Linked DNA regions of Homo sapiens. The protein of the gene in region 3 interacts with the protein of the main gene of each other region in a pairwise test. Each region holds a gene or a part of one and is shown on either strand. Other genes may lie near its edges.

Region 1 (7,000 bases), on a different chromosome or scaffold from region 3:
ATTTTCAAGCTCCCGGTTAATCCCCACCAAAGTTTCTACTGTTCGGCTACTTCAGGATGGCTAACATTTGGAGAGAAGAGGATCCCCCAGGTAGTCTGTACATAATTCAGAGAGAGGACATCAGAATTTTCCATGGTTCTATTTCAGGTATTAAGGTACCACAGTGAAGCATGTCATTTGACTGTGGTGGCAAAGGGACGGCACTGAGCATGCCTAACCTATTCCCTGGCATTTCAGTCCAATCAGCGCATGCTCGCAATGATCATCCATGGGTGAAAAGGAAGAGCTGAAAGACACATGTGCTGAGCAACATTTAATTTCTGCTTGTTAAACGGGTGATTAGGCGCCAGTGTGGCACCATCCAGACACTGGGAATTTGTGCCACTCCATCAGTTCTGCTGGCTCTGCTCATTCTGCTTTCCTGCAGTGGATGCCACTTCCCAAAGAACCATGCTCCAAAAAACAAAAGAGAACTGAAAAACAAAACGGGAAACTTTCAAGATAAAGCACCCCCCCACCCCGACAGGAAAGAGCTACATTGTAGAAAAGGATATTCATGTATGTTTAGAGATATAACTCCCAACACCGGAGCAGTCTGCTGCCACCAATTCCCTAAATCTTGAGGCTTGAGTCTAATTTTGATGCTAAAAGTAGAGCTTAGTGTTGGAAGAAAGATGATGCTTTAAAAAGTTTTCTTCTATTTGCTTGGAAACCCAGTGACCCTTTCCAAGCCAGATCCTAAAGCTACCTTTGCCCATCCTTCTCTCTTTCTCTTCTCCGTGACAGCACTGTGTTAAGCACTAGAGGAGAAAAGATAAGAGTGGATATGGAGGGACTTAAAGATCTGGGACCTGGAAAACCGTGGTAATTGAAATGTAAGGTTATACAGGAGATAATGGCAGGATATGAGGCAGGACAAATAAATCAGGGATAGATTGTGGCAATGCAGGGGGTTTCAATTTTGTTATTTGGGCAATAGGGGGCCAAAAAAAAAAAGTTTCTAAGTAGGGAAGTGACATAGTTAAAGGCGTGGTCAGAATTATAAATTTTCAAAGACCCCTGTGGCTGTGTATAGGATGAATTGGAAGGAGAAAAAGAAAAGAAGTGGAGAAAGCCATCATGTTACTGCTGCAGTTCAAATATGAAATGATCGGTCCTGAACACTGGGTATGGTAACAACAGGACAGAGATGAAAAATACTTCAGAGATAGAAAAGACAGGTCTTGCTGACTGATACTATGTGGAAGGTGAGTGGGGGGAATCTACAATCTACCTTGATGCTGAGGTTTCTATCTTGGGTGACTGGATGGATTTCTTAATTAATCCAACAAATATTGAGGACCCATGTGCCAGGTACTGGGGACAGTGATGAACAAGACAGACATGGTCCCAACTGTCAAGGAACCAGTCTACCAAGAGAAGCAACAGGGCAAACAAATACAGAAAATATTATTTATTTAATTATAATCTTAACTTGCCAGGCGAGGGTGTAATAAAGAATCTAACCTACTCTGCAGTCAGGGACAGTATAAATGATGGTGCCATTCCCTGAGACAGGAAAACATGAGGAGGATCTGGTTGTAGTGGGGGATGAGTATAGCTTGGAATGTAATGAATTTGAGGCAACTGTTGGTATACCTACCTGGGGATTTGCAAGACAGGGAAACTTGGAAAGAGGGGCTGGAGATAGAGTTAAATCCAGGGAAGACTAAGGAATATGGTGGAGAATAAGTTCCTAATGCATAGCCTTCCACTTGGGAGAATGAGCTAGGCCTTCCTGGAGACATCAACAGGACAATACCACATTCAGATGTCAGCGTTTGATGATACCACGAAGGTGAGGCTAAGGCAAGGGCTAACTGCCCAAGTCTACTGGCTCAAGAAAAGAGAAACATTGCCAACAAAATATCTGTGAAAAGTGGCTGGAGAAAGCCAGATGCTGTAATTTGCTGGCATGAAAGAACCTAAAGCCCTGATCAGCCTTTTAGTAACCATCAACTTGGGTTCTGAAACGCTAAATAAAGGTAGGGACAAACGGGCCCACAGAGCAAGCACTCAAGATTTTATATTCATAAATATATACTCTGTTTTTCTCTCCTCTTTCTAGCTGTCTGTTCCAAATCAATGTCAAGACTAGGGAAGAATATGAAGACTAGAAAATTCCCTTCTCAGGTAGGCATGGTGACTCATGCCTGTAATCCCAGCACTTTGGGAGGCTGAGGTGGGCAGATCACTTGAGGCCAGGAGTTAGAGGCCAGCCTGGCCAACATGGCAAAACCCCATCTCTACCAAAAATACAGAAAAATTAGCCAGGCATGATGATGCATTCCTGTAATCCCAGCTACTCGGGAGGCTGAGGTATGAGAATCACTTGAACCCGGGAGGTGGAGGTTGCAATGAGCCGAGATTGCACCACTGTCCTCCAGCTTGGGCAACAGAGTGAGACTCTGTCTGAAAAAAAAGAAAAAAAAAAATTCCTTCTCCTGCTGCCAACTTTTAATGGGTGGCCAGAAGCGAAGAGGTTGGGAATTCTTGGCACTTAGGCCAGAGGGAGAAAAGTAAGATGCTGTTGCCCTTTGTGCCAAAGTTGGTCCCTAATGTCACCATCAGCCAGCACTTCCTTACCTCTTGAAGATTGCCTCTACCACCTCTTGGCCTATGACCTGACTCCTGACCATTTTTGGCTCCCCATCTTGGGTGGCTGCACTATCGCATGGGCATTCTCTGTCCCTTTCCTTGCCTCAGCCCTGCAGCCAAACCTTCCAATGTCACCACAGTCTGATCTGGGATGTTCCAATGAGAAGTTCCCATAATCATGTTTCTCTCTTTAATGTAAAAGGGCCTTCTAGTCTGTGTGGCGTATGAGATGTAAAACTGGAGTATAGAATCTGGGAGGGTAAGGACTGATCTCCGTTGTTCACCAGCACAGAGTAGAACTTCAATGAATGAACAAGTAAAGATTTCCCAAGTAACCTGCCACATAAATCCAGGAAAGTTTTGATGCTATATGATTGGCCTAACAACTTGTTCAAATGAAGCTTTCTCCAAGTGTCTGCTGGGTGCTAGGGAGCTATATTGGTAAATAAAGCTCTGCCCTCAAGGAACTCTCAGTCTATGAAGTTACAGTGAATAAGCAAACTGCCATAATAGAAGAACATACGAGAGCTGTAGAAGAGCACAGAAAAGAAAATAAGTAATACTACCTGGAGAAGTCAAGAAAAACTTCAGCAAGGAGAGGGTATCTCAAGTGAGTCCTGAAAAATAAACAGGAAATTGCCAAGTAGACAAGGCTTGTGAAATGAACACTCTTGACAATGTGAGCGAGTGACAGGATAACTGCATACAAACCCTGTGTATCCAATCAGGAGGATTTAATGACAAAGGACTCTCCAGAAGCCCTCTCTGCATCATTAATTAAAGCCCTGATCACACTGCGATATGATTATCTGCTGATGGCCCTCCTCCGGACAGCCCCACCTGTCACTGCCCCTGGAAAGCTCACCCCAATCTGGATGCGGTCTCAAGCCCTCAAGCCAAAGCAGGGCTTCCCAGGTACAGTTTCCAGGCTCTACCAGGGTCTTGGCTCAGAGAAGACATAGCACTGCCCTCATGTGAAAAGTTAATGAAGAAGGAAGGATGGAAGCCAGATATTCTTTATATTATTTCAATAACTTACATAGGGGTAGCATGCTGATTACAAGTACAGTCCCACACTGCATAATGATGTTTCAGTTGACAACAGACCACGTATACAATGGTGGTCCCATGAGATCACACCATATTTTTACTGTACCTTTTCTATGTTTAGGTACACAAATATTTACGATTGGGTTACATCTGCCTGCTGTATTCAGTATAGCAACATGCCACACAGGTTTGTAGCCTAGGAGCAATAGGCTATCCCACATAAGTGTGTTGTAAGCTATACCATCTAGGTTTGTTTAAGTATATTCTATGATATTGGCACAATGATGAAACTGCCTAATGACGCATGTCTCAGAATGCATCCCATCATTAAGCAATGCATGACTGTAACTGGAAGCTCCCCTATGATCCTGAGGTTCCAGGGAGAGAAGGGGTTCTCCCTGGAATGTGTTCTAAGCTAAGCCTTCCAATGCTCTCCTGGGAATGCGCTCTAGGCTAAGTTTTCCAATACACAGATTTACATGGGGAAGGTAGGTTACTGGTGAGATTAGAAGCCTTTATTTTTCAGTGAAAGCTGGGAGTCCAGAGATGACAGTAGAAGGCACAGCCAGCTCGTAAATCAGCAGCATTCAGGGCTCTGGACAGCCTCTCTATCAGCAAAGCAATTGATGCTTCTGCCAGGGAGGCTGCAAAGAAGCTGTTCATCACTACCTCATTTGGAGACTTGACACCCAAATGGAGGCTCTAACAGCCAAGTTCATAGATCTGAGCAAAGCGCAGAGGCGTCAAATCTGTGTACACCAGTCTGCTAAGTCTTCAAGGGCCCTGAGGGGCAGGCTCTTCTCAGATGCTGCTCTGACTCTCTGAAGGCCTTTACAACCAAAATGAAATGAAATAACTTAAGTCCTAGCTCAGGGGCAGGTTGAGAGAGACCCTCAACATGGCGATGTCAGGTACTTTGGGCCAAAAGAGAGACCCAGGAAACTGTTGCCATTGTGTTCTCTACCTCTGTCCCTCTCCAGCTGGGCTCGAATTGTCTCGTTCTCAGTGATGTGAGTCCACATCGTCTTATCATGGTTCCCCTGTACAGCCTAGGTCTTCATCTTCCCAAAAGCCATGGGAAGCAGACTACTTTTTCCAGAACAGCTAACTGACTGTGCTCAACCTTTATGACCCAGTTCAAACAAGAGCCCCTCTCTGAAGCTTCCCTCCAGGCCAACTCCAACTGAGTCCCTCCCTTCTTGGCCCCATAATGCTAAACTGACAACTTGGCTATGGCATTTAAAGCTTTAATAGTTCCTATATGGATTGACAACAGTATATGCAAATACTTCAAATATATACGTATCACAAGTTTGTGCTTGTGACTGAGAATCTAAAATGGCCTCCAGTGATCCCTGCCTGTCTCCAGGCATTCATGCCCTTGTGTAATTGCCTCCCCTAGAAGGTAGGCAAGACCTGTGACTTGCTTCTAGTCAATAGAAGATGGTAAAGGTGATGACCATCTCTCCTATGTTTACATTATATAGGACAGCAACTTCCATCTCACTATCAGACTCGATTGCCTCTCTCTCCCTTTATGGCTTTGATGAAGTGAGTGATCATACAGAGAGGCCCACGTGGCAAGCAACTGAGGGTGGTCTCCAAATGACCGTCAGCAAGAAGGCCCTCATTCTACGAAGCCACAGGAATTGAATCCTGCCAACAACCTTGTGAGTTGGGAGGCAGATCTTTTCCCAGTCTAGACTTCAGGTGAGACACCAGCCCTGGCCAATGTTTTGACTGCAGCCTTGAGAGAGAATCTGAAGTAGAGGAGCAAGCTAAGCTATCCCCACAGTCCTGCCCCACAGAAACTGTGAGAATGTGTATTGTGGTAATACCACTGGGCAGCAATAGATAATTAATACAGCACGCAAACTCTCAGCTGATAAGACATGCAATCAAAGGAGTGTGGAGACTGCTACTAAACACCTCTAGACCCGCAGAGGAAGGCTCCATCAAACAGCCAAAGGCTAGCAGTGAGAACCTGCACGTTTTAGTGGTAAAAAGAACATTTGTCTAAAAAATGGGAAAGTGAAAAACCTCAAAAATTGGCTTCCCAAGACTTAGATATGAGTCCCAGCTCTGCCTCTAAGAGGTAGGTGATCTTAGTCAGCCCAGATTTACTCAGCCCAGCCTTCTCATCTATACATACAATGTGGTCAAGAGGGCCAGTAAGAGTGGCCAATGAGAGAATAAACTAGGAAATGTTTTGTCAGGCCGGGCGCGATGGCTCACACCTATAATCCCAGCACTGTGGGAGGCCAAGGTGGGTGGCTCACAAGGTCAGGAGTTCGAGACCAGCCTGGCCAACATAGTGAAACCCTATCTCTATTAAAAATACAAAACATTAGCCAGGTGTGGTGACGGGCACCTGTAATCTCAGCTACTTGGGAGGCTGAGGCAGGAGAATCTCTTGAACCCGGGAGGCAGAGGTTGCAGTGGGCCAAGATTGCGCCACTGCACTCCAGCCTGGGCGACAGAGTGAGACTCCACCTCAAAAAAAAAAAAAAAAAAAAGTGTTTTGTCAAATGGAATGTGATAGACACATGTTAGTTTGCCCCAGAACTCTGGGGTGGCCTTGGGTAAGGCACTGTCCTCTCTCGGTCTCAGCTTCCTTATTGTAAAATGAGGAGGGAAGCCCATGCTATTTAATGTCTCCAAGGGCTCTGATCTTCTTTGATTCTAACATCGCATACCCATGAGAAGAGAGGAAGAGGCGAAAGTGGTAGACTATGACATTTTACAATAGTTCCCAGTCATTCTACTGGCCAGGGTGACTGTCTTACCATTAAGGAACTGGAAAGCATTTGACCAGTCATATCTAGTCAACCTACAGGGCCTACAACCTGGATTCCTCAACTAAGAGGGAAAATCCCCATTTGTTTTACAAAAAGGAAAAAATGATCAAGGTAAAGTCAGTGGGAGCCACCAAACATAAACTACTGACGCACTCTGAGAGTGGCAGTAGCTTTGATTTTATTGCTGAGCACCTTAACTATGTGCCAGGAGCTTTTATAAAAATAATCTCCAACCTTCACTACAATCTTATATAGTTTGTGTCATTCTTATTGTAAAGACAAGTTAGCTGAAGCTCAAAGAGAGTAAGCCCCTTACCCAAGGCACATTGCTAGTACATGGTAGGGCTGGGATTTATCATTATTATTATTAGAGACAGGTTCTCTCTCTATCATCCAGGCTAGAATGCAGTGGCACAATCACAGCTCACTTTAACCTCCATCTCCCAGGCTCAAGTGATCCTCCAACCCCAGCCTCCCAACTAGTTGGGACTACAGGAGCATGCCACCATGCCAAG
Region 2 (11,612 bases), on a different chromosome or scaffold from region 3:
GTACTTAGCATACACTGTGCCTTGCCCTTGGCAGACACTTGGTCAATGCCAAATGATAAGCTGGAAAGCTGAAACAAAACCAACTGCTGACTGAGAAGAAACCACTCCCTGCACCCATCACACAGCCTTAGGGGGAGAAGTCATGAATCAACAGGGCTGCCCCACCAGTGTCAATGCAGGCATTCCTTCACTCTGCTCATATGGCCACAAATGAAAGAAACATTCGTCAGAGCAGTATAGTTTTAGAGGTTTTAGTTTGGATGGGCAGCTGGGTCCTAGAGAAATTAAGCAAGCTGCTCAATGTCACACAGCTTTCTCTTCCTCTCTGCTAATTCACTGGTGGTTGGCAGTGGCTCTCAGCATGATGTTGAAGGCCACTTAGGATTTGGTGCTGCCCATCTCTCAAGGGTCATCTTCTTCTATCACCTGCCTATTGCCTGCCCTCCATCCCTTCCAATAATGATCTGCAACCCCCAGACATGCCGTGCTCTCCCACACCTCCGGGACTTTGACACACCTGCTCCTCTCTCCCCGGCACGCCTATTCTCCCTCTCGCCTGGCGAGCTCCAGCCCATCCTAAAAGTCTTAGCTATTAAAGCACTGCCGCTCTCTGTAAATGCTCCTGACAGTTCAGTTTTGCAGCTCAACAACCTGGGTTCAAATCTCTGCTCTGCCATTGACCACTGTGACTCTGCTCTGGTCACATGCTTGCCATGTGACTGTAGCAAGTGACCTAACCTCTTAGAATTCTACCTCAGTGTGGGGATGAAATGGGATGATGCAAGGAAACTGTTCAAAGCAGTGACAGGCAGATACTAAGCATTCACTCTGCACTGCTGGGATCTTGCCTGACTTCACAGGCAGAGTTAGGCAGCCCTGCCATACCTCCACCACCCTGCATGGCCACTGCTCAGGCCTATTGAGATGCCTGAGTAGTCTCTGGGCAGGGTCTGCATTGCCATCTTTATACTCTCAGAATCCAGTCCCATCCCCAGACTTCATCATATGTAACGTATGAATCCTTTTCTGGGTATATCACAAGGCAAACACCCAATGCCAACAGCCAAACAGCCACAGCTTCTGGAAAAATGCCTAAGAGCAAAGGCTGCTGTTAATATATTACTTAAAAAGAAGAGGATCCCAACCTGCAGCAGTGTAAGAACCTCTGCCCACACCTCCTGAGTGCTGTCCTGCTCCCCTGAATCAGCAGTTTCCTTGGTACAGCACCAGAGAGCCGCACAGAAGCTCATGACAGACCCCAAACCCATCCAGCCACAGGCAGCAACACCCCAAGTGGCCTCTAGGATTGGGAAGCGTCAAATAGGATCCAGAGGGTTTCTGAGGGTCCGGTTTAGGAGAATACTTTGATCTTCTTGGAAGAGGCAACTACATGCAAGGTCAGAAAGGACTTTAATGTTGTGAAAATCATATCCAGTTTCAGTTTCTCAACTGTGGCACAAGTGACACTGGAGGCCATATAATTCTTTGTTGTGGCACCGTCCTGTGCATCGTAGGACGTTTAGCAGCATCCCTGGCCTCTACCCACTTGATGTTACCTACAAGTTGTGACAACCAACAACAACAACAAAATTTCAAAATTATCCAGGTTTGGCCGGGCGCGGTGGCTCACATCTGCAATCCCAGCACTTTGGGAGGTAGAGGCGGGCAGATCACCTGAGGTCGGGAGTTCGAGACCAGCCTGACCAACATGGAGAAACCCCGTCTCTACTAAAAATACAAAATTAGCCAGGCGTGCTTGTGCATGCCTGTAATCCCAGCTACTCTGGAGGCTGAGGCAGGAGAATTGCTTGAACCCGGGAGGCGGAGGTTGCGGTGAGCCGAGATCGCGCTACTGCACTCCAGCCTGGGCGACAGAGCAAGACTCCGTCTCAAAAAAAAAAAAAAAAATTACCCAGGTTTGGTGGTGCACACCTGTAGCCCCAGTTACTTAGGAGGCTGAGGTAGCAGGATTGCTTGAGCCCAGGAGTTCAAAGTTACAGTGAGCTAAGATTGCTCCACTGCACTCCAGCATGGGTAACAGAGTGAGACCCTGTCCCTTAAAAAAAAAATTTTTTTAAGACTCAAATAGGAGAAATTTTTAAAGAATTTTTTTTCAACTTGCAGAACTAGCTTCCTGGCATCTTCCAAATATTTAGCTTTGATGGGGATGTCTTGCCTCTTTTCTTTTGAACACTCATCACGGTAATAATTGATCTAATCACCAAAATAACCAGGAGTTTCATAAAAAGTATGACATAGCATGCCAGGTGTGGTGGTGCACACCTGTAGTTCTAGCTACTTGGGAGGCTGAGGTGGGAGAATCACTTGAGCCCAAGAGTTCCAGGTCAGCCTGAGTAGGAAACACAGTGAGACTTCATCTCTAAAAAAAAAAATTTTTTTAAAGAATATGACATAGTGAAGCTGATTTCCAATCTTAGCTAGCCTACTAGGATAAACACTCATTCTTTATTTATTTATTTTATTTTTTGAGACTGGGTCTTACTTTTTCACCTAGGCTGGAGTGCAGTGGAGCAATCTCAGCTCACTGCAGCCTTGACCTCCCAGGCTCAAGCAATCCTCCCACCCCAGCCTCCCAAGTAGCCGGGACTACAGGTACGCAACACCACTCCCAGCTAATTTTTTTTTTTTTTTGGTAGAGATGGGGTTTCACCATGTTGCCCAGGCTAGTCTTGAACTCCTGGGTTCAGGTGATCCTCTTGCCTTGGCCTCTCAAAGTGCTGGCCACTTTGAGGTGTGAGCCCACCACACCGAGACAAAACATTCATGCTTGCCTTTCTTCCCTCCAAACCCAAAGATAATCTTTGAGTCTAACTTCTCGCCCCCAGGATAGACCTCACCCAACGCATACTGCAAACCAGGATCACCTCTAAGGACAATTTTTTTCTCATATCAAGTTTCAGAATTACTTCCCAGTTGCACAAACTGCATTCCCATCTTTTACTCTAGGTTTGCAGATGCTCACAGAATCAAAGGTCACACATTTTAAAAGCTAAAAAAACCAGAAGGGCACTTCTGTCTCTAACTACAAAGACAATGGATAATTTGGAGTTGACGAAAGCCACAGAATGTGTCGAAAAGGCAAAATAATAAAAATAATAAAAAGATGAAAATAGAGAAAGTCTCATAGGCCTTTCTGAGCACACAAAATGGTTAATTTCTGTAGAGTCAGTGTGAGCCATTTATTAATTATTTTTTTCCAGTAATTCAAGGTAGTGGTCAACTACCACTCTTCATAATAACAGCTGCTGCTTTCTGAGTGCTTAAAACATGCTGGGCCCTGTGCATTATTTTATCTAAATATTGCCACTACCCTTTAAAGTGGGTACTATTACCAGAAGCTGAGAGGCCCTTGCTGGTCTGAGAAAAACAAATTAGTGCTAGAAACACAGGTGATTAATTTCTGTTATTTCTAATTTCCTATATTATAACAATGTTCTTGATAAGAATTTGTTGAAATTGGGTAAAAAGTCTAGTGGTTCGAGGTCGGGTTGGGGGGGCGGTTGGGGGAAGGGGGTGGTTCTGAGGCCAGACTCACTTCGTGTCTTGGGAAGGTACCACCTCTGGAAGCCTCATATTCCTGCTCTCAGGAATGGGCACAGCGGTGGTACCTACCTCAAGGGGCTGTTGGGGAAAGTATGGCAGGTAATTCTTTTAAGGGGCTTAGGACAGGGCCTGGCACACAAGATTTGCTTATTCTATGTCAGCTATTATTCATTATAAACTACTTTAAACTCTTAGCCAGGTGGAGCCACTAGGGATTTCTGAGCAGGCGGGAGCAGCGGGGAGGGGGGCGGCGAGATAAATGAGGGCCTCCAGGTCCCAGCTGGAGTAAGACCCCCACTTTATTTCCTCTTCCTAACCACCCAGCTCCTGGGGCATACAAAGGGCTCAAAATACATATTCTCTGCATGCACAGTATCTAGACCCTCTGGCATCCTCCTCTTCCCCCACTCCCCCATGCCTCACTCTGTCACCTGGCCTCGCTGTGGGCTCAGGGGCGCAAACCCTGCACGTGCACTGCCCTGCAGCCGGCGTTACACAATCCGCATTTCTAAGGCAGCCGTGAAACCTGTGTCGCTGTAGGCGGGGGACCGCAAGTTGCCGGCGGGTACCTGGCTGGACAGCATCCTGATTCAAGTGTTTCGACACGGAAGGGGCGCAAGGGCACGGGAGCCGGGGCAGGCTGGGGAAAGGGAAGCTGAAAGGCTGCTGGGGGAGGGGAGTAGCGGAGCGAGATCTTGGGGACGGCGCGGAGGCGGCGCGTGACACGGAGCAAGATGCTATCTGGGTGGGCGAGCTGCAGTCCTTCTCCAGGAAATGGGGGAAACAGGGCTGCAGGACCCCAAAATCCTCTCGGCACTGCGAGGGGCGCCTAAGGGCTGCTGCGGGCGCAGGGGGTGGGGAGGCGAAGTAGAAAGAGGGTGCAGGTCCCGACCCGTCCTCACTCTGTCCCCCGGCTTCAAGAGGCTGGCTGGACCCAGGAAATGGGGCGCCGGGTTTCGGGCATCTCAAACCTATCCAGGCAGCGGGAGGTGGGGGCAGCGCCCGCGCGGGGAGCGGAGTGGAAAGGCAAGTGCAGATCGCCGACTCTTTCCACTCGATGCGCCGCTGCAGGGAGACACTGGGGGAGAGGTCACGGGGCCATCAGGGCGCCCCATCCCCCTAGGAGCGCACCACCGCCCGCCCGCCCGCCTCCGCTCACCTGACCAGCCTCAACCGCCTGGGTCCCGCCGCCGGGCCCGGACCCCGGCCCTCGGTCTCTAGCCCCGGGCTGGGACCTGCCGCCGGGCTCCTACCCGCGCCGCTCCCAGCTCCGGCGCCCAGCCCAGCTGGACTCCTTAAAGGCGCAGCGTGCCGGTTCGCGTCCTCCGACAGAAAAGCCGCCCCGCCCCGACCCGGCGCCGCGCGCTGTCCCCCAGCGGCCGCGCTCTGTTTGGGGGCTCCGGGGCGCTTATCCCCAGTTCCTCCGCGCGCTGCCTCACAGCGTTAAACCCGGAGGGTACAGTTAGCGTCTCGCACAACCCAACGCCGGCAACTGTCTCCTAGCACCCGAAAGCCACGGCGAGAGCAGGATCGCCTACAGAGGTACCGGGGGCGGAGCCCGAGCGCCCGGTCCCGCCCCCGCCCCCGCCCCCGCCCCCGCCCCGCCCCGCCCCGGAACGCACACGGTGGCGGGGCGCGGGGAGGGCCTCTGAGCCCGCAGAGCCACACACAGTTCCACATCCCCGGCCCGAATTCTTCCCGGCACTGTTTCACTTACTGAGCACCTACTGTGTGCCTGGCGCGGCTGGGCATTAAACCCGCCAAAGTGACTCAGGCAGGATCTCTGGATCTCTGCCCCGAAGGGCATCAGAGAGAAAGGGACAGGCAGGGGTTCTCAGGCAGCAAAGCAACACTGCTTGACATCGGTTGTCTCACGTAATCCTATGAGGTAGGCACTGGGGTCGACTTCTTTTCTCAGAAGACACCGAGGCTCAGGGAGGTGAGGGGCTTGCCCTGGATAGTCCAGGAAATGGGAGAAATGGGGGCGCAGGAGCCCCCAAATCCTCTGGACACTGCGAGGGCTCCACCCCAAGGAACACCGTAGGCGCTCATGCTCCCGCCCTGGCTCTCGGGTGTTTGGAGACAGTTGCCGGCGTCGGGTTGTGCGGGACGTCAGACTGTAAGGACTGAACTGGGAATTCCAACCGAGGATCGTCTGACTCCAAAGCTATACGGGAGAAATGGGCACCTGGAAAGGCCTTCGGCCACCTCTGGTTAAACCCCTGCTATGGTCGTTTCTTTCTTTTAGGGACAGTTAAACCCCAGCTTGGCCTGGCTACTCTTCCGTGTTTTCCATGTCTCAGTTTAGCTGCCACTTCCTCCAGGAAGCCTTCAGTAAGACCCCTTTGGGCTCACACTGCACTGTGGGCTTCTTTCATCAAAACATGTATTCGTTCATTTAACAGATATTTACTACACCTGTTAGGGGCCTTAGTGGCACCCAGATCTTCCTGCTGCACTGAGTGCTTGGCCTGCCACTCCAGACGTCAAGGGGCCAGGGCTCAGCAAGACTCTCTTGGCCGTTTAAATCCCCCACAAAGGCAGCCTTTGGGCCTCAGCCTGCCAAGGCCTCCACGCTGGTGGAGCCTGGCTGAGTGGTGCAGGTCCTGGGTTTTAAGAATAGGACACAGTCAAGAAGTCCCGGAGAAGTGGCAAAGGGGCATCTCTGAAGCCACTAGTGATCCCCATGCCTGTAAACCCTGCTCTGCAGGGCAGCTGGAATTCATCCGGAGTTTGGGACAGTCCCCCTGGCTTGGGCTGGAGCATTTTCCTTTAAATTGTTGGCTGCCTTATCACTTAGACTTCAATGGCTGCATGTGATTCACTTCAGGGAATGGCCCCCGAGTTTCAGTGGCAATTTATTCACCAAACAGCGGGTTGCTCAGTCCCACCTCTCTGGCTTTATCTCTCCTTACGGCTGAAGCAGAACCTTTCCAAGCCAGCAGTCCACCAACATCCCCAGAGCAGGTCCACAGAGATAGCACAAAATGTGGGGATTAAATGTCCTTCAGTCACTACTGGCCACCTATTGGATTAGCATCTTGGACTCAGGAACATTCACCAAAACAGGAGTCCAGGGGGTGAATAAATAGACAATGAAATTGATGAATGACTTCCTGGAAGGCCCCAGCCTAGAAGCCATCAATACACCTGGTATAAAGTTTAAAACAATTGCTCCTTAGTCTTTTAATTTTCCCTCTCCAAAACCTTAAAAATGGGTAGTTCATCAGTTTGGTGGGTTTTTTATTTAACTCACAGCCTGTGACCCTGGGCGTCTCCAAGGGCCTGGAATTTCTATATCCCGAGGGTTTTTTTCCCTCAGAGTTTTATATTTAGAAACACCTTTTTGAGCCCCATGTGGGAGTCACATTCTGGGTGACTTATCTCCACTGGATGGCTGACAGGAGAGAAACCTTATTAGCTCCAGTTTTACAGTGAAGGAGGCAAGAGGAGATAAGGGAACTCACCTCCGGCCCCTCCCTGAGCCGGTGATACCCCTGAGTGCTGTCACTGAGGAATCCCACCTAGGTGGGAGACCAGGGAGCAGTCCCAGGGGCCTGGTACTTTCCAGATGGCACCTTTAGTCATCCCAAATAGAAACTCCTTATCAGTGGACAGGTCTCACCCTAGCATTAAGAAAGAGTTTTGAAACCTTTCCTCTGCCAGCAGTTGCAGCAGAACACTCCAGGATTCACTCTGCCATGAAGCCTGTACATGTCTCCTGGATGCAGCAGCACAGCTATCAGAGCTGAAGGATGCCATTATTTAATGCGCACTTACTACCTTCAGCCGCAGGGCATCAAATCACTTAGTCCTCACAACACATAGTGAAATATGCTCACCTGTGAGTTATACTAACCCACTTTACAGACACACCGAGGTACAGAGGGGTTAATGGACTCACTCAAGATCCCACAGCCAGCTTATGGCAGGGCCAGCGGTCAAAGGAGTTCACTCATTCATTTATGTAGCAAACATTACTGAGAACCTACTACATACTAGGTACTGTCTGGATGAACAGAGACACACTTCTTGCCCTCAAGGACTTAGAGTCTATTTATAATAATAAAATATTAGAAGCTATTTAATCAGGGAATCACACACAAGCTGTGAGGGAATCACACAAAAGCCATGTCAGCACATGGAAATGTGTGCAGGAGAAAAGCAAAAAACACAAGATACCATGTGTACACAGACACCAGCTGGGCAGCACCCCTGAGCTTATGAGTCATTCGTACCATCTATTCCCCAAGCATTTGCTGTGTGACAACTCTGAGCCAATCCCTGAGGCCTCTGCCCAATCTGGAACTCCAGTATCACTGCCTCCCAGCAGCCTTACCTGACTATCCAGGCAAAATTAATTTTTCCATCGTCCACACCCCTGTAGCACATTATACATGACGATATGTTTATTTATTTAGGCAACTCTCAACTCCACGGAGTTGTGAATTCCTTTTCCACTTCCATCTCCCCAGGGAAAAGCATGATGAGTAGCACAGAACAGGCAAATGTTAATTAGCTACCATGTGTTGAGCTTTTCCTGTGTTCCTCACCTTGTGCTCAGTGCTTTACAAGCATTATCTCATGGATTCCTCCCAACCACTCTGTTATTAGCCCTATTTTACAAATGAGGAACATTTTGAGGCTCAGAGAGTTTCTGAGCCTCAAATCTACCCAAATGTGTTAAATCACCTATCCAAATATCTTAGTCTGTGTGTGTGTGTGTTTTGAGAGAGTCTCACTCACTCTGTCGCCCAGGCTGGAGTGCAGCGGCACGATCACGGCTTACTGCAACTTCCACTTCCCCAGGTTCAAGCAATTCTCCTGCCTCAGCCTCCTGAGTAGCTGGGATTACAGGCATTTGCCACCACACCCAGCTAATTTTTGTATTTTTAGTAGAGACAAGATTTCCCCATGTTGGCCTCTTAGTCTGTTTTTGCATTGCTGTAAAGAAATAACCAAGACTGGGTAATTTATTAAGGAAAGAGGTTTAATTGGCTCACAGTTCTGCAGGCTGTACATAGTGCCAGCATCTGCCTCTCATGAGGGCCTCAGGAAGCTTACAATCACAGTGGAAGGTAAAGGGGAGCCAGTGTGTCACCAGGCAAGACAGTGGGAGCAAGAGGGAGCAGGAGCAAGAGACAGTGAGGGCAAAAGAGAGTAAGAAAGGAGGTGCCACGCTCTTTTAAACAATCAGATCACATGTGAACTGCCAGACTGAGAACTCACTCATCACCAAGGGGATGATGCTAAGCCGTTCATGAGGCGTCTGCTCCTGTGATCCAGTCACCTGCCAGACTCTTAGTAACAACCAGCTCTTCTGGGAAATAATAGAATGAGAACTCACCCACCACCCCTACCTACCAAAGGGCATTAATCTATTCATGAGGGACCTGCCTTCATGACCCAAACACCCCCATTAGGCCCACCCCCATACTGGGAATCACGTTTCAACATGAGATTTGGAGGGGACAAGCATCCAAACCATATCACCAAGGTCACACAGCTAGTCAACGATACTGCCAGAATTCAAACAAAGTTTTGTATGTCTGAGCACAAAATCTATATTCTAACCATTCAGCCACCTGCTGCCATGACAAGTAATGGAATTAAATAAGAAGAATACAACAAAATCTCACCTTAAAAAGCTTGTACTGAGCATTTTATGAAGTAATAACTTTTTTAGGCTAAAAATATTTCTTTCCAAATGCCTTAAAATATTGCTTATTCATTTATTTGTGAATTAAATGTTTACAAGCATTTACTTATGCATAGGACCCAAGCTATGGTAGATACAATTTTACCCCTTCCTTTAAGGAGAACAGTCTAAATTATATACACCTGAAAAAAAGAACATCAGTGCAAGAGTTAAGTAATAAGAACATATCACAAGACAACAAGTCAACATATGTCAACACATGTCATATGTAGTATATAATCATAGAAAGGACTCACTAATCAGGAAGTTCTAAGACTGTAATTCCTACTATATTGATTCATTCACTGAAAATGCCAGTTGAGCATAGCACTAGGCCAGAGAGTGTCCTGGATGGGAAGGAAAGGGAGGACTTTGAGAGATCAGTGTCACTGCACCTGCAGCACTCTGATAAGCTCAGGCTTGCCAAGCACCTGAAAAGAAGTGGGAAGATGCTGTAGTTTGAATATGGTTTGTTGAACCTCACCAAATCTCATGTAGAAATTTGATCTCCATTGTTGGAAGTGGAGCCTAATGGAAGGTGCTTGGGGCATGGGGACAGATCCCTCATGAATAGATGAATGCCCTTTGACAGGATGGGGTAGTGAGTAAGCTATTATTTCCCGTGAGAGCTGGTTGGTATATAAAAAGAGCCTGGCAACTCCCTACTCTCTCTTGCTTCCTCTTCTACCGTGTGATCTCTACACTTGCATGCTCTGCTTCTATGTCCACTATGAGAGGAAGCATACTGAGGCCCTCATCACATGGCCAGTCTTGATCCTTCCAGCCAGCAGAATTATGAGCCAAATAAACCTACATTTCTTTCTTTCCCTCTTTCTTTCTTTTCTTTTTCTTTCTTTCTTTCTTTCTTTCTTTCTTTCTTTCTTTCTTTCTTTCTTTCTCTTTCTTTCTTTCTTTCTTTCTCTCTCTCTCTCTTTCTTTCTCTCTCTCTCTTTCTTTCCTTCTTTCTTTTTGACAGCATCTTGCTCTGTTGCCCAGGCTGGAGTGCAGTGGCACAATCTTGGCTCAATGCAACCTATGCCTCCTGGGTTCAAGCAATGCTCCTGTCTCAGCCTCCCGAGTAGCTGGGATTACAGGCACATGCCACCACACCCAGCTAATTTTTGTGTTTTTAGTAGAGACAGGGTTTTACCATGTTGGCCAGGCTGGTCTCGAACTTCTGACCGCAGGTGATCCTCCTGCCTCAGACTCCCAAAGTGTTGGGATTACAGACGTGAGCCACCGTGCCCAGCCTAACCTTATTTCTTAATAATTACTCAATCTCAGGTATTCCTTTATAGCAACATAAAATGGACTAAGACAGAAGGTGATGGAAATTTTCCAAAAGATTAACCTGGACCTTTAATAAGAGGTGAGGGATACTAACACCCAGAATGATTGGGACTCCACTGCTAAAGACAGGAAAAGGTTAATGTAAAACCAAATTAGGATAAAAATGATGAATGCAAAAGGAACGGAGCATATGGAATGTTAACAGATGGCAGAGGGAAAGCCAAACTACCGGTTTCCTATATTACATCATCTTGATCATGGAAAAAGATTTGATCAGGTGAAAATATCACAAAGAGGGAAACTGAGCTCAGGATAGGAAGAAAAGATGGAGAAAGAGCACACAAAAATTTAAATTAGTTCAAATTACCAGATCAAGAGAAATTACTGCCCAAGATACTAAAAGGATATTTAGATCTGATCTTAAGAAACATATTCAGTGATCTTTGATAAATTATGCTAGAAGATTTTAACGAGTGAGAGTCCCATTTCAAATAAAGGAGAAAGACTGATAAACAGATCTCGAGACCAAGAGGTATGGTGTTGATTTTTAGCAAAGTTCTGCACCTGATTATTAAACTAAAACAAAAGAGGTTAAGTACAAGAGCTCATTTGGGTTCCCTGTGAATGATCACACCAAAGGAATAATATTTCACAGTTACTAGCATAAATAGACCTGGAGACTGTTGCAGGAAATTGCATACAGAATCTTGACTGTAGTAGGCTTTGGACAAAGCATTTTATAATCTGTTTATGGAGAAGATGAAGTAATTTAGACTTCGAAATATCAGTTTGGTGAAGTCATAGAAGGTTAAACAACAGTGGCCCAATTTTGTTTAATCTGACAAAATGAGACTGAAAGCAATTTTTTTTCCTTCCTTCCTTCCTTCCTTCCTTCCTTCCTTCCTTCCTTCCTTCCTTCCTCTCTTTCTCTCTCTTTCTCTCTTTCTTTCATCTCATTATGTTGCCCAGGCTGGTCTTGAGCTGCTGGCCTCAAGCCATCCTCCTCCCTCAGCTTCCCAAAGTACTGGGATTACAGCCCTGAGCCACCATGTCCTGCCTG
Region 3 (10,950 bases):
CTTCCAATAAGCTTCCAAATCCAAAGAAGGAAAGTATGAATGTATGAGCACACACAAAGAAAAAAAGAATCTATATCGCAAAATAGGACTAAGAAAATACTACAAATTAGGAGGAAAAACATAATTAAGGCCAAAATATATCTGATATCAATAAATATTGTGTGAAAATTCACACAATATTTATTCATATCAGATATAAGATAGAATAAGAAAAAATAATATGAGATATAAAAAAGAGTAAGACTCACAAATTGGGTCAAGTGACAAACTATATTTTCCAAAGACAGCAGCAACAATATCTCCTCTTCCACAAAGTCTTCTAGCACCTTCTTATTCCTTATCAAGAGCAGAGCCTAATTCCCATTTCCTTGAATGTGAGTGGGCAGCAGAAGCGATGCTATGACATCTTAGCTAGATTGTAAAAGCTTGCGAGCTAGAACACCCCACAAGTGAAGTACTGGGCTGCCACGTAAGCAGTCCCACCACCATGAGGCCACCATGCCATGAAGAAGCCCAAACGAAGGCACAGGGAAAAACATGTGGAGAGGCCATGGGACCTCATGAAGAGGAGATGGCTCACAACCCCCATCATTCCAACTACTGTCTGACTACAACTACTCAAGACCCCAAGCCAGAATCTCCCAGCAGAGCCCTTCCCAAGATCCTGACCCATAGAAACTGTGAGATAATGGCTGTTGTTGCTCTAAGCCACTATGTTTTGGAGTGATTTGTTAGGCAGCAATAGGTTACCAACCATTATTTCCAGAAAAGACCACTAATAATCTAGAAAACTGGTGGGAAGGGGTTTTTTAGGATCTCTTCTCCAGTATTATAGAGAAAGGTAAAGTTGGGAAGCAAAACTTGGGAATTACATGATGAAGCTGCCTATTCAAGATAGGTCCCTAATGATAAGGACTCAGTTGTAGTTGTTGCTTCCTATGATTACCATCAGACATCTTAATGGATTATTTGAAAGTTCTACACTGATACTCACCAACCACTTTACTCTGAAGGAGAAGAGTGCACTAAAAGCAAATATCACCCACAGTACTGGACAGGCAATAAGTCCCAACCAAAAGATTCTTGATTCAGCCTCTGACACAGTTTTATTCTCTTGAGAGGACTCCTATAAAAGAACATAAATTCAATTATCATGTTGTGAAATTTATCAATAAAAAGTTCAACATGTTTAATAAAAAACATATTACCCACAAGTTCAAATATTAATACACACAGCCCAACTCCTAAGTTAGAACCCAAAAATACATGACTATCACTCTTGTAATTTTAGGAACTGATCTATATTAACTCAAGAATTTTGCATTTTCAGGGCAGGATGGATGGTTTACCACAACTCATGACAGTAAAGAGTGGTCTCTGATAGGATTCTATTCAATTCTTCTTGCACTTGTACTATTTATTCATAAGGAAGCTCTAAATGATACCTTTCCTACCAATGATCAAGGAAATCACAGTTATAATCATTCTGGAGACTAAAAGGTCAAATTAGGGTCCAGAGGAAAAAAAAAAAACGGAATCAAGGGATTCTGGACAATAATCAAAATGTCTTAGCAATACCCAGGAAGTTACAAGGGTGGTAAGTTGTTTCCAAGGTAGATTCTATAATATAAAAGAATACAGGCTCATTGAACACAGTGCCACTTTCTTAAAATAACTTGTCAATACCCTTGGTGTACTGTCGCCAAGAATTTGGTCCTCTGCTTCCAAAACTTATTTCCACAAGGAAAGTGAATATTCACTATAGTGTAGCAGGCTAACCCAAAACAGACCAGGATCCCCAGGGCTCCTGAAGGCAGAAGCTTAGGAATAGAGTGCTCCGATCAGATATTCTATCCAGCTGCACTCCTCCTCCTTTTTCCTGCCCAGAAATGAAAGACGACCACAGGAGCAAAGACAGAACAAGATGTTAAAAGCAGTTATCTGCTGAGCATAGAGGGATTTATGGAGACACTAACAAAGGCAACACAGAGATCTTTTATCAGCAATCCCTGACAGGCAGCTTAGCACACTGTATGAACTCAGACCCAGTGTCTTCCCTCAAAGGATTCTGTTCTGTATATTGCTTGTTTCTGGTCTGAACTAGACAGAAAAATGCATTAAATTCTAGAAGGCCATCTCCTTTAGTGCTGACATGCCAAGTGATTTGGTATAGTGTTTTTAATTCTGAATACTTCATCTTCCAGTATTTAAATATAGTCTACAAATAATTTAGCTGATAACATTATTTAAAACAAAAAAGGCACTTTACCTTTCTAGATTCAAACACCCAATGGCTCTTTCCATCTTCATCAATGTGATTCCACCAACGTAGGCCAACCATTAGTCTACCTGTGACATTCTGGTGAAGATTAATATAAACAGGCACATTTTAAAAGCATTATTTAAAGATCTATCACAAGCTCCTATCTTAGTGTAACATTTCACAAACAAAAACCTTCAGCTTTACCTCCATAATATCCAGTTAGCAAAGACTACTATGTATCAGGCCTGGCTAAGTGATTAAGTAAAATGGTAATGGCAGGACTAATAGGGGTAGAGGTGACAGAGCAAGCAACAAGTCCACCCATAAACATTACACCTTCTCTTTTCCCTCATGAACAATTTGCCCTTTCTCCAGTTCCCTAATTTTCCCTAAACCCCTTGCTATTTGGTTACTGTGACCTACTTTACATCCTGACTATAGCTACATGTATTTTACAACTACATATCCCTGAAAATGATTATAGACACTGGCCTTCAGTCAGTCTCTCAAGTTACCAAGCTCTTTTCCTACTTACTAAGGTAATAAATTAGTTTGATAGCTTTCCTAATCTTTATTTACTCAACAAATATTTACTGAGCATCTACTATGTGCTGGTAATACAACAGTGACTAACAGATACCAACTCCTTCCTCAGGGAAAGAGGTGAAGAGAGGCAGACAACCAATGCACAAATGTACCATTACCAACTGAGTTAAGTCCTGCAAGGGAAAAGTGTGAGATGCTTGAAGAGTATAACAGGGAAATTGGATCTAGTCTGGGTATCAGAAAATGACTCTCTGAGGAGTCAACATTTGGAATGAAATATAAAAGATAAATAAGAATCAACAGTACCATGGATGTTTAATTAATGGTGTCCACTAATAGATTCAGTGGTTCTGTGAACCTCGATGGGTTAAAAAAAAATGTTACCTTCATTTTCATTAACCTCTGGCTAAAATTTAGCATATCTTTAAATTATGAATGTAGACAACAAACTATGAATGTAGGTAAAATTAAAAACACCCTGACACAATAGAAATCACAGGCATTTTTTTATTTTGTACTATATTTGCTGCAGTTACCTCAAAATATTGTAGTTTTGTTTTTTGTTTGGTTTTGTTTTTTGTTTTTGAGACAGAGTTTCGCTCTTGTTGCCCAGGCTGGCATGCAACGGGGCGATCTCAGCTCACCGCAACCTCTGCCTCCCGGGTTCAAACGATTCTCCTGCCTCAGCCTCCCAAGTAGCAGGGATTACAGGCATGCGCCATCATGCCCAGCTAATTTTGTATTTTTAGTAGAGATGGGGTTTCTCCATGTTGGTCAGGCTGGTCTCGAACTCCCAACCTCAGTGATTCACCCGCCTTGGCCTCCCAAAGTGCTGGGATTACAGGCGTAAGCCACCACGCACGGCCTCAAAATACTATTTATGCTCACCACTGCTTTGAAAGTAGTTAGCATATCATTAAATTATGAATGTAGACAACAAACTATGAATATAGGTAAAATTAAAAACACCCTGACACAATAGAAACCACAGACATTTTTCATTTTGTACTATACTTGCTGCAGTTATCTTAACATATTGTTTACGCTCACCACTGCTTTGAAAGTAGTTATTAGACCTGCCACTAGATCTTACCATTAATAAATTCATAAAGTATAGTAGTCCTCCCTTATCTGCAGGGGATACATTCCAAGACCCCCAGCAGATGCCTCAAATTGTGGTTAATACCAAACCTTATATATGCTATATTTTTTCCTGTAAGTACATACCTATGATAATGCTTAATTTATAAATAATGCACAGTAAGAGATTAATAAGAAATAAAAATAGAACAATTATAACAACATAATCTAATAAAAGTTATGTGAATGTAGTTCTCTCTCCTCACACAGTATCTTACTGTTTAGTGTAGTGTATAGCAGTAACTGAAACCGCAGAAAGTGAAACCTCAGATAATGGGGGAACTACTACACATATAACTCAATCAGAAATTTACTTTTCTAATATTTTTAAATTATATTTCAATATAAGTGACTTCCTTTGAAATCTTATGTACTTTATATATGTGAAAACTTATTCATGAGTCTATGAAAGGGACCCATGGCATAAAAAGATTAGGAATCCCTGTATGAAGGTGATGTGGGAGGAAGAAGAGCATTCCAGATAGAGCAGCAGGCACTGATGCCCTAATGAAGAAAGTACAATCTATGGATTTATGGGACTTGGTCATTAATTGGATATGGAGTAGGAAGGAGGCAACTGATACATTTCTGGTTTGCTCAAGTAAAAAAATAGTGATTCCAGGCCCCACGAAAGGGAACACTCAAAGAAGAAGAGCTTTTGGGGAGTGGAAGATGACAAGTAGTATTTTACACATGTTAAGATATAAGTTGCCTGGCCAGGCATGGTGGCTCACTTGGGTTCAAGACCAGCCTGGCTAACATAGTGAAACCCTGACTCTACTAAAAATACAAAAATTCGCTAGGCATGGTGGTGCATGCCTGTAGTCTCAGCTATCTAGGAGGGTGAGGCAGGAGAATGGCTTGAACCCCAGGAGGCAGAGGTTGCAGTGAGCCGAGATCACACCACTGCATTCCAGCTTGGGTGACAAAGCAAGATTTTGTCTCAAAAAAAAAAAAAAAAAAAAAAAAAAAGATTTGAGATGCCTTCAAGACAGCCACATAAAAACGTCAAGAAGACACATGGAGAGGCCTTGAGTTGTGAGGACAAACCTGAATGGAGATACAGATCTGGGAGGCAACACAGCTTACAGATCAGCAATTAAAACCAGAAGCATAAACGGCACTCCTTAGGAAGGGAATACAGGAGAAGAAAAGGAAGAGTCTTATGAGACCAAAATTCCTATGGGAGAGATGCTAAGTAAAAAAAAAAAAAAGAGCTGGCAAGGGAGACCTAAACCAGAGGTCTCTTCTATAGGTATTTTCAAAGAATGCTCTCAGAATACTTTCAAACTCTTCTGTGTTCCCATTTTCTAACTCTTTATTTCCTGCTTTTATCTTTATTAGTTTATTTTCCTGATTTCTCACGCTTATTGCTTGTTTTTGAAATTTCTGGACTCAAGTAGTCCATTATTTTCCCTCTTTCTTGTCTAAAATAAAAGGCTTTAGTCTATTATTTTCCCTCTGAATTCAGTTTTTGACATATTCAGAAAGTTTAACTGTAAATGATCACCATTAAGGTATAAATAACCTATATTTACAGTTTTTGCTTCCTTTTAAACCCAAGATATGTAGTAGTTCGCTTTTTAAAAAGAATTCCAATTTCGACAACTACTTTCTATTAATTTCTAGTTCTGTTTCATTGGAGTAGAAAATGTAGGTGCTTTGGGCAATTTTATTTTGATTTTCTTCACAGTGATATTTAGTCAATTTTTGTAAATGCCCCACAGGCATTTAACAAGAAAGTATTCTGTCATACAAAGTCCCAAATACTGCTATCAAATTGATGTTGCCAATTATTTCATTCAGATCCTTCAGAACTTATTTATTTTTTGGCACTTTGGTTTGTTAAAGATAGTAGTTTGTTAAACTCATCATAATGCTTTTCTATTTTCTAATATTTCCAATTTTTTTACTATACATAGTTTGATATAATTTTACTCTGTGAATGATCTTCACTGTGATTCATAAAATCACCTTTTTCTGTTCCTCTTAGTGCTTTCTTACTCTGATCCATATCTCATCTGATAATAATACAATGCCAAGTTTCTTTTTGTTTGAGTTGATCTGATGTTATCTTTGCCTTCTTTTATTTTTTCTAATGTCATTAATGTTGTTAGATCTTTTGTTTGGACTTTGATTTCTGACCAATCTTAGTATTCTTGTCTTTAAATGGGTAGTTTAATCAAATTACATTTCCTATTATAATGAATTTGCTATTACTTACATCACTTTATACATGTACTTTCTGATTTAAGCTTCCTTGACAGTTGCTTTGTTTTCCTTCTTTTGCTCTATGAACTGTTTTACTTGCTCCATCTTCTCCAATGTTGCAGAAGATACACGACTGGTTTTAAATTTTACTAATAGTTGCCATTATTTTTTTTTTTTTTTTTGAGATGGAGTCTTGCTCTGTTGCCCAGGCTAGAGTGCAGTGGCGCAATCTCGGCTCACTGCAAGCTCCGCCTCCTGCCTCAGCCTCCTGAATAGCTGGGACTACAGGCACCTGCCACCACGCCCGGCTCATTTTTTTTTTTTTTTTTTTTTTAGCAGAGATGGGGTTTCACCATGTTAGCCAGGATGGTCTCGATCTCCTGACCTCATGATCCACCCGCCTCAGCCTCCCAAAGTGCTGGGATTATAGGTGTGAGCCACCGCGCCCAGCCATAGTTGCCATTAAATTTTTAAAACCATTATTTAACCTTTTTTACTCAATTTGTCAGAGTGAAGAATAAAATAAAAACCAATATAAGCTTTAGCATTTAAGCATACCTTTAAATTATTTTCCCTTCTCTACCTCTTCTTTATCTTCATTAACATCACCTAGGGCAAGCCTATCCAACCCTCTGCCCACAGGCCTCATGCTGCCCAGGACAGCTTTGAATGCGGCCCAGGAGAAATTTGTAAACTTTCTTAAAACATTATGAGATTTTTTTGTGTGCGATTTTTTTTTTAAGCTCATCAGCTAATGTTAGTGTATTTTATGTGTGGCCCAAGATAATTCTTTCTTCCACTGTGGCCCAGGGAAACCAAAAGATTGGACACCTAGGGGTTTAGATGAAGATTGATTTTTTGTTTTTTTAGTAAGTACATTGAGATTTATAACAATTACGACACATCTCTATTTTAACTGTTTCAGAACCCTGCTTATCCCAAGTCCACTTAATAATTTCCCTATTCTTGACTTCTTAATTTTGCTTTATATCTCCATTGCTTTGCTATCTATAAGTAGTTTTGCCAAGGATAAAAGGGTGCCATTTTTTAAGCCCTTGTTTAAAAACAAAAATAAACAAATAAACCTTATCAGAAAATAAACTATTTTGATCGCATTTTTTAAAACTCTAAACCCAGAAAAATTTTAAGAGTTTGGAAATTACCAGGAAGAACTGACTGGAAAGCATGTTCTATTTGGCTGAACAGAAATTTTATGAACAACAAAAAGAAACGTGTATCAAAACTGTGAGCAGTATGTACTAAATACTTTGGAGCATAAAGTAACAGAAGAAATTCAAAGAAATGCAAGCCAAAGAAGACTGGACAACAGAAAAACCTAAAGAAAACAGACCTTTGAAATCTTCCTTCTCAGCATTATGCGGCCTATGGAAACTGGCCATCACCAAGCCAACCACTTCAGGTATCTTTAAGAATTAAAAGATGGCCAGGCGCAGTGGCTCACGCCTGTAATCCCAGCACTTTGGGAGGCTGAGGTGGGCAGATCCCTTGAGGTCAGAAGTTCGAGACCAGCCTGACCAACATGGAGAAACCCCGTCTGTACTAAAAATACAAAAAAATTAGCCAGGCGTGGTGGTGCATGCCTGTAATCCCAGCTACTCGGGAGTCTGAGGCAGGAGAATCACCTGAACCCAGGAGGCAGAGGTTGCGGTGAGCCAAGATCATGCCATTGCACTCCAGCCTGGGCAACAAAAGTGAAACTCCGTCTCAAAAAAAAAAGAATTAAAAGATCTAAAAATGGCTACATTGGTGGGTGTGAATAGGGTTGTAACATCTTACTAGTCTTTGAATCAGTATGTGTCTCTGAAACTCCAAAATCAGCCTTTGATTTTTTTCTCCACTATTTTACTATATTTTCGAACACACACAGTTAAATTTTACAGTGAATACCCAAATATCTATCATCTAGAGTCCATATTTAATATTTTATTATGCTTACTTATCTATTTATTATGTACCTATCTATCCATCCATCCATCTCTCTAATCATTGTTCTTGAGTTTGAAACCATTTCTTACACTTCTTTCTATCCCCTACAGCAGGGTGTCTCAACCTTGGCACAACTGACATTTTGGGTCAGGTAGTTCTTTGTTGCAGAGGGGCCGTCCTGTGTGTTAGGATATTTAGCAGCATACCTGCCCTCTAGCCACTAGATGTCAATAGCACACTCCTCCCACCTCCAGTCATGACAACCAAAAACATTTTTGGACACTGACAAATATTCAGTGGGTGGCAAGCTTGTCTCTGGTTGAGAAACACTGCCTTAAAGCATCCATAGGAGCCTTTTCAAAAGGTAGGTATTTTTTAGGTATTTGTGGACAAACTACACTGGGGCCTTATCTAGAAATTATATACAACACACCTACAGGTAAGCCTGAAGCAAAACCCATGGTATGGATTAGAAGCAACATTGTAGGGTCTATGGTTGCTAGTCACTTTTGTTTGTTTATTTGACTTTAAAGCTGATGTAGGTTAGAATATGGCACAGAAAAATCAGCAGCACAGTAACCTGCATGTCTCATCTTGTATTGTCAAAGGGAAAAAATGAAAAAAAAAAAAAAAAAAAAAAAAACTACATGCAATTTGATATATCTAGCACTTCAACACAGATGAGGTTTGAAGTAACAAAAGATTAACAATAATGCAAAATGCTAACTCATATTTTTATACATCATTTTCATATTAAATATAATTTTAAAATAAAAACAATCAAAATTACCTTCACTGCCCAAAAGTCACACGACAACAACAAGATAATTGTCACCATACAGGTAATAAAGCTGCTGCTGAGCAACCCACAGAGAAGATAGACGATGATTGCACTGACTCGAAAGAATAAGTGGAAAAACGATGCTACTGGATGTCTGAAAACCAAAACACAATGAAAGAAATGCAATTACATTTTACTACAGGTACTAGCAAATGTAGAGAAAAATGTTTTAGCCATCGTGTAACTGTGAAGAGTTTTGTCAAAATAAAAGAGGTGACTTTAGTAGGATGAAGCAAACCTCCTAGCTCTCTTTTTCTTAAGCCCCACTATTTGACTAGGCCCTGTAGTTACAGAAAATACACTATGCACAGATGACTTTAACACCTCATTGAATATAAACTTTCACAAAATAGATAATAAAGAATTTTATCTCTCTTGGAGAAATAAGGAAACTGTATCTTAGAATTTGAATCCTATTTTCAAATCACACCAAAAGAATTCCTTAGCCCTCAGAAATCACTCAGACATTAAGACAAAGTTATCAGGTAGTTTGTTTCTTTCTTTCTTTTCTTTTTTTTTTTTTTTTGAGACGGAGTCTCGCTCCGTCGCCCAGGCTGGAGTTTGGTGGCACAATCTCGGCTCACTGCAAACTTCACCTCCTGGGTTCACGCCATTGTCCTGCCTCAGCCTCCCAAGTAGCTGGGACTACAGGCGCCTGCCACCACGCCCGGCTAATTTTTTGTATTTTTAGTAGAGATGGGGTTTCACCATGTTAGCCAGGATGATCTCAATCTCCTGACCTCGTGATCCACCTGCCTCGGCCTCCCAAAGTGCTGGGATTACAGGCATGAGCCATCGTGCCCAGCCTGTTTCTTGTTTTTTAATAGCTTTTTTGAGATATAATTCACATATCATACAATTTACTTATTTAAGGTAAACAATCTAATGGTTTTTAGTACATTCACAGATTTGTACAACCATCACTCCAATTTTACAACTTTTCATTACCCCAGACAGAATCTTTGTACCCACTGGCAGTCATTCCCCATTTACCTTCAAACCCCTCAGCTTCTAGCAACAGCTAATCTATCTTCTGTCTCTACAGATTTGCCTATTCTGGACATTTCATATAAATGAAATCATACAATATGTGGTCTTTTGTGACTGGCATGAAAGATGAAAGAAAAGTAAAAGACAGCATTTTAGCAGGGTTCAAGTAGAATTTGCTTTCAGTAAGTGAATTTCTTTAGAGAGAATTAAATTTAGAATAGAAATGTTATGTGATTTTGAAATGTGCACAATAAATCAAAATGTAATGTATCTATAGAAACTATATAAAGAAATGGTACATTCTTGGAAAATAGCACAGAATTAAAAACACAGGTGTTCAAATAATTGGATTTGCTGATTTTAAAACTCAGTATTAAGTATGCCAATTATTCACAAGAAAATCTGAAATGTCATCTTTGTCGTACACTAAACGTCAAATTAGCAACATGCAGTATTCACAAGCACATTGAAACAACTCTGCCTTGACTCCCATCAGCTAGCACTGACATACATACAGAACAGCACTGGACACTAACACAGCTCATGCAACTTCTCTCCTCCTACCTGATTTTGGCTTTTCTTGGTCTATTAGTCGTCTCCTCTTCCGCATCAAACAGTGAAACATCTTCAGTGTCATCATTACTATCCTGGTAGGAAAAATAAATGGTCAAGAAGCAAAACAAAATTCAGTGTTTACACAGCCACTGCAATGCAAAGCTGCATACTCATCAAAATAGAAGATAAAATAATGTGGTTACAGCATCAGGAATTCAAAACCTAGGAAAAGGACACATGCAGATCCTCCACCCGCCTCCTCAAATCATCTGGCAAAAAACCCAGAGAATAATCGAAGTCTCAGCTCCTCCATCCCTGCCCCTAGGCTGCACCATCTGAGAAAACTCTAGGGTGCAGATGAGGCTACTACAACTTAACACCTGTCCTCCTCACCTGTTCTCTCCCAAGTCACAGAGCAAGCCGAGGCTACTGGGGATAATCTCAAGGTTTCTGGCTC

Evidence for each region.
Region 1: the proteins of TVP23B (region 3) and YIPF1 interact in binary tests that used the Homo sapiens proteins (3 or more experiments, as listed by UniProt).
Region 2: the proteins of TVP23B (region 3) and ABHD6 interact in binary tests that used the Homo sapiens proteins (3 or more experiments, as listed by UniProt).

The regions. Positions count from the first base shown.
Region 1 is NC_000001.11:53,851,798-53,858,797, forward strand, and holds part of YIPF1 (protein YIPF1), read right to left. Parts: intron 3,255-7,000; exon of another isoform or gene 3,204-3,254; intron 474-3,203; 3' UTR 1-473.
Region 2 is NC_000003.12:58,231,028-58,242,639, reverse strand, and holds the start of ABHD6 (monoacylglycerol lipase ABHD6), read right to left. Parts: upstream 4,849-11,612; 5' UTR 4,724-4,848; intron 1-4,723. UniProt on the Homo sapiens protein: Lipase that preferentially hydrolysis medium-chain saturated monoacylglycerols including 2-arachidonoylglycerol. Through 2-arachidonoylglycerol degradation may regulate endocannabinoid signaling pathways.
Region 3 is NC_000017.11:18,788,988-18,799,937, reverse strand, and holds part of TVP23B (Golgi apparatus membrane protein TVP23 homolog B), read right to left. Parts: intron 10,904-10,950; exon of another isoform or gene 10,887-10,903; intron 10,586-10,886; coding exon 10,503-10,585; intron 9,043-10,502; coding exon 8,898-9,042; intron 2,360-8,897; coding exon 2,270-2,359; intron 1,127-2,269; coding exon 995-1,126; intron 1-994.